Regions from separate parts of the Homo sapiens genome. Here region 2 is linked to region 1. The links come from fine-mapping of genetic effects on gene expression. A gene starts in region 1. The other region holds a variant in brackets. All regions are shown on one strand. Distances are from middle to middle. Region 1 holds the start of PARP4 (poly(ADP-ribose) polymerase family member 4). Region 2 has its middle 85 kb from the start of LINC00566.

Region 1 (2,924 bases):
GAACAGCCCCGATTCCTAAGAAACCCTCAGCGCGCCTCCTCACAAACTCTTGGCTGCTCCATAAACCATTGGTGTAGGTGGAATCAAGTGGCTTCCTGCTTCACAGGTCTTCGTCTTTACCACTGGCATTTCCTCCTCTCGGAAAACCCTGAGGAGTCCCTTTCTGGGCAGTCTTGATTCTACAGCCTCCGCCTTCCGAAGTGTGTGAGTCAGCACACGCTAAGATCACTTTTGATATACAGTGGGCATTCAATAAAAGCTTGCTTACTAAAAACTCTCACGTATCCATTAAAGCCCAGGATTACAGAAAAGCCTTCTGACACTATTTGCATTTTGGACTCAAATGGCATCAGTAATGCACCTCCCTAATGGGTTTATTAAACCCTTAAACAACAAAGGTACTACTTTTATTTCACTCCTACATGATATACAGTAGCTCTACGCACACAAACAAGACCTAATGTTTACTTAATAAATGATAAAGTCAGATGTAATGAGTCTGCAACACGCACATCTCAGAGCGAACTTCCCCTTTATCATAGCACTATGCTTGGATATTGTCATATAATTGTTGTCATCCAGCAGTCCAGAATTGAAAGTGCTTGGGCTTGAATATTTAGCAGCGCCTTAGTTTTCTAGAACCTGTGATCTACCAACTCGATCCCTGGGTGAACCATTCGGCCCTCCTAGCAGGAATTACTTAACTGAGTTAGAGGTTTTCAACTTTGGACCTCAACAAACACATTGTTTCTATCACGGTGTTCCCAATGACTCACGAGGTCAGATAGTACTTCCTGATTACTCACCAAACCACCTTACTTTTTGCACAATTCGAAACCTAACTTTAGGAAAGAAGGCCGTTTGGCATACTGGAAACAAGAAACAACGCGTGCTACTGCGAACCGCACCGCACGGGGTGCGGAGACTTGGTGTGACTGTCGGCTCCGGTGGGCGCCCCCCACCGCACCCGGTTTCTCGTCACCAGGGCTGCGCCGCGGGGCAGAGCGGAACGACCGCAATATCCCTCCCCGAGGGCGCTGGCTGCACTAGCTAGTCCACTCCCGAGCCTAGCAGCGCCGTCAGGCCCACAGCGCCAACGCCGCGCAGGGCAAGGGTGCAGCCACTGGCGGGAAAGTAGTACGCGGGCCACTTCCTGGCTAGGACTACAGGGACCTTTGCAGCCCCCCACCCCGCAGCGCCCACGCACCTGCCTAGAGGATCCAGCTAGCTCCGGACGCTCCCCGATTCCGCGCTCCTTGCTCGCGGTACTTCCGTAATCTAGGCTCTCCCTGCCCCCGGGGCTGGGCGGGCGCCACTGCGCCGGAACCCCGCCCCGCACCAGGCGGGCGCAGCGTCCCAAGCAGGGACGATAGCCGGAACGCGCCCGGAATCGGGTCCGCCAGGTGGGGAGCGGGTCCCCGGCCTCTGGCGGGGTTTCTCTTCCAAGATCAGCCGGAGGGTTCAGGGCTTTCAGTTTCATATTTCAGGAGGGATTTTGTCAATGAGGATTAATACAAAGCTCGGCTTTGAGAGAGGTGGGTGGATGGTGCTGTCCTTTAACTGAGAAATGGAAGGGATTCACAAGGCCGGGAAAGAAGAAAATTTCGGGAAAGTTCGTGGAAACAGGAGAGTGAGATAATAAATTTACTTTAAGCCTTCCTGCGTTTGAAATTCGTGACAGTGTAACTAGTTGGAAATATATTTATCTGCCATTCAAGAGAGGCAGGGGGCTGGAGATACAGATCTGAGATTCACTGAAATGGGAATAAAGCAATGGGGAAGATTCAGATTTTTAGGATACTGAATAAAATGAGAATAGAAAGGATAGAGTAGAGAATACAGTGGAAAGGGTATGGGGTTGAATCCTGACTCCACAATTTATTACCAAGGGGGCTGGGGACAAGGTAATTTACCAAGTTTCATCATTACAACCTACTCTATAGGGTTGTCTAAGAAACAACAAGAGATTCTGGGGGAGGAGAGAGACTGATTCCTAGAGTTACCACATCGTAATGCTCAAAATGTCCAATCTTCAACAAAAAATTATGAGGCATGCAAAAAAAAAGGCGAAAAAATGGCCAATTCAAAGGAAAAAAGAAATGAACAGAAATTGTCCCTGAGCTGAGGAAGCACAGACATAGGAATTATTAGACAAATACTTCAAATAAACTGTCTTAAACATGGACAAAAAGTGAAAGGAAACATAGAAAAATAACTGAAAGAAACAACCAGGAGAACAAAGTCTCAATAAATAGAGAATATGCAATAGAAGATGTGCAAATGGTCAACAAGCATGAAAAAAAGCCCAGCATAACTAATTATCAGAAAAGTGCAAATTAAAACTGCAATGAGATACCATCTTACACCAGTCAGAATGGTTATTATTAAAAAGTCAAGGAACAACAGATGCTGGCAAGGCTTTATTGAAAAGGAAATGCTTATACACTGTCAGTGGGAATGTAAATTAGTTGAACCACTGTGGAAACCAGTTTGAAGATTTCTCAAAGTGCTGAAAACAGAACTGCTATTCAACCCAGCTATCCCATTACTGGGTACATATTCAAAACAAGAGAACTCATTCTACCAAAAAGACACATGCACTAGTATGTTCGTCACAGCACGCTTCACAATAGGAAAGACATGGAATGAACTTAGGTGCTCATCGACAATGGACTGGATAAAGAAAATGTGGTACATTTGCACCATGGAATACTACGAAGCCATAAAAAGAATGAATGGAATCATGTCCTTCACAGCAACGTGACTGCAACTGGAGGCCATTGTCGTAAGTGAATTAATGAAGGAACAGAAAACCAAATACCACATGTTCTAATTTGTAAGTGGGAGCTAAACACTGGGTACTCATGGATATAAAGATGGCAACAATAGACACTGGGGACAACTAGACAGGGAGGGAGGGGGAG
Region 2 (2,924 bases), 96 kb before region 1:
CTGCCAGCCTCAGCCTCTGCCTCCCAAAGTGCTAGGACTGCAGGCCTGAGCCACCATGCCCAGCCTAAACTCACTTATTAGTTCTACTAATTTATCTATAGATTCTTTTGGATTTTATGGTACATGATTACATCATATAAAAATAGTAAATTGTATTTTTTCCATTTCAGTCATTTCTCTCCCCTAGCACTGGCTAGAACCTTCAGTACAGTGTAGAATTAGAAGTGGCAATAGCAGCCATCAACATATAGTTCCATTCTCCAGGGAAAGGCTTTCAACATCTCCCCAATTGCTTTACGAGTGTGTGTGTGTGTGTGTGTGTGTGTGTGTGTGTGTGAGCTACCATTTATCAGATTAAGAAATTTCTTGGCTGGGCACCATGGCTTACACCTGTAATCCCAGTACTTTCAGAGGCCCAGGATGGGCAGATCACTTGAGGCCAGGAGTTCGAGACCAGCCTGGGCAACATGGTGAAACCCTGTCTCTACTAAAAAATACAAAAATTTGCCAGGTGTGGTGGCACATGCCTGTAATCCCAGCTACTCCAGCTGAGGCATGAGATTCACTTGAACCCAGGAGGCAGAGGTTGCAGTGAGCCAAGATTGCACAGTGCTCTCCAGCGTGGATGACAGAGTGAAACTCTGTCTCAAAAAACAAAACAAACAAAAAGAAAAAAGAAATTAGTTTGCTAAGAGTTTTTTTTTTTTTAAATCATGAGTGGATGTTGAATTTTTAAAGATTTTTCTGAATCTTTGAGATGATGTGGTTAATTACATTGATTAAGTGGTAAACCAACATATTCCTGGAATAAATGTAATTTAGTTGTGCTTTATTATTTTGTTAAATAATTATTAAATAATTTTATTATTAAATTGCCAGATTCTGTTTGTTAATATTTTGTTTAGGATTTTCAAATTCATGTCATCTGGGAGAGTGGTTATAATTTTCCTTTCTCACAGTTTTTTCAAATTTTGGCTTCATAAAATGAGTTACATTTCATTTTCTCTATTTTTCTTCTCTGGGTAAATTTATGCATGCTGATTTTTTTCCTTCTTAAGTGTAAAGTGAAATTCACCAGTGAACGCACATTGGCCTAGAGTTTTCTCTGGAGAGAAGTCTTTAAATTATGGCTCAATTCCATATATAGAATGTTTTTATAATTTTATTTCTTTTGCCAATTTTGGTAGATTATAGTTTTCCCAGCATTTGTCCATTTAATCTAACTTTGCAAATGTCTTGACATCAAATTGTTCACAATATCATTTTACCATTTTAATGTCTACAGAGGTGTTCCCTTTTTTATTCCTGACATTGCTTTCTTGGTGCCTTCTCCCCTTTTTTCTTTTGATTAGTCTCACCAGGGATTTATCAATTTTACTAGTCTTTTAAAAGTACCAAATTTTTGGCCTTACTGGTGGTCTCTATTTTTTATTTCATCAATTACTATGATATTTAGTATTTTCTTCTGTAGTCCTTGGGTTAATTTGTTCTTTTCCTGACTTCTTGACATGGATAATTCTTAGAGTGTCAACCACTCTCTTTTCTATTTACCATTTAAGGCTACAAGTTTTCCTCTAAGAATTGCTTTAGCTTCATTCCATAAATTTTTATTTGTATTGTTTTTATTTTACTTAGTTCAAACTATTTTCCAATTTTGACTGTGCTT[G/GT]TTTTTTTTTTTTTGACCCATGAGTTATGTAGAAGTATACTTCCTTATTTCCAAACATATGAGAATTTTGTTTTTAAATTTTTGATTTCTGATTATATTGTGTTGTGGACACAGAACATACTATGTATTTTTTTCTTTTAGTTCTTTGAAATTTGTTTAGACTTGCTTTACGGCCCAGAATATGGTCAATACTGTCAAATGTTTTCTGTACATTTGAAAAGAACATGTATTATGCATTGTTGAGAACAGTGTTCTATGTACATCTATTTGTTAATTATTTTATTTAACCCTTCTATATTCCTACTGATGTTCTACTTTTGTTTGATTGAATTTTAATAATGTAATTCTTTCCTTCTCACCCTCTATCATTACCTTCAAAGTCATATACTCATTTTCTGTTTTTAGTAATTACTGTAAAGATTTCAACCGCATCCTTGACTTAGCTATTATTTTTTGTTTATGTTGAGCCTGCATCTAGAAATCTTCCTAAACTCTCTCATTAGATTAAGGAGCTATTCTGTAGACTTACTTACTATACTGACTTTCTACACTGTTTAGGCTCTGTAGTATATTGTTAAATGGAAGCAAAGAAGAGAGGACATTTTTGTTTAATTCCAGGCTTTGAAGAAAATGCTGTCAATATTATGTCATTAATATGATGTTCCTGGTAGGTATTTGGGTAGATTCTCTTTGTTGAGTTAAGGAAGTTTCCTAGTTGTTGTTAATTTTTAAAGTCACAGGTGCAGGCTGAATTTTAGTGAATGCTTTTTCCTACACTAATTGAGATAATTGTAAGGTGTGTCTTCTTTAATTGATGAATATGATAAATTGCATTAACATAGATTTCTGATATAGGATGATTCGTATTCTTTTATTATGTTTTTTAATGGGCAAAAGACTTTTATTCTTTTTGAGCTTAGATTTTTGGTATAATTTAACTTTTAGATTTGGAAGTACATATGCAGGTTTATTGGTAATATTGTGTGATGCTGAGGTTTGGGGTGTGAGTGATCGCATCACCCATGTACTGAGCACAGGACCCAATAGTTAGTTTTTCAACCTGTGCCCTTTTCTGCTGTGCCCCCTCTAGAACTCCCCAGGGTCCATTATTGCCACCTTGATATCCATGAGCACCCATTGTTTAGCTTTCACTTATGAGTGAGAGCATATGGTATTTGGTTTTTTGTTTCTGCATTAATTTTCTCAGGATAATGACTTCCAGCTGCATCCATGATACTGCAAAGGACATAATTTCTTT

The links. PIP is the estimated chance that this variant, and not a neighbour inherited with it, causes the effect.
Region 2: its variant is fine-mapped to the expression of PARP4 in whole blood (INTERVAL, PIP above 0.99).

The regions. Positions count from the first base shown.
Region 1 is chr13:24,511,499-24,514,422 of GRCh38, forward strand. It overlaps PARP4 (poly(ADP-ribose) polymerase family member 4), which reads right to left and starts at 1,280. Exons shown (of 34, transcript NM_006437.4): 1 at 1,208-1,280. All of the region lies in intron 1 of LOC105370117 (a long non-coding RNA gene), which reads left to right. RefSeq lists a silencer at 1,278-1,437.
Region 2 is chr13:24,415,299-24,418,222 of GRCh38, forward strand. No RefSeq gene overlaps it. Among named protein-coding and RNA genes, the nearest start is that of LINC00566, 85 kb to the left of the region's middle. The variant G/GT (reference allele first, on the strand shown) is at 1,667.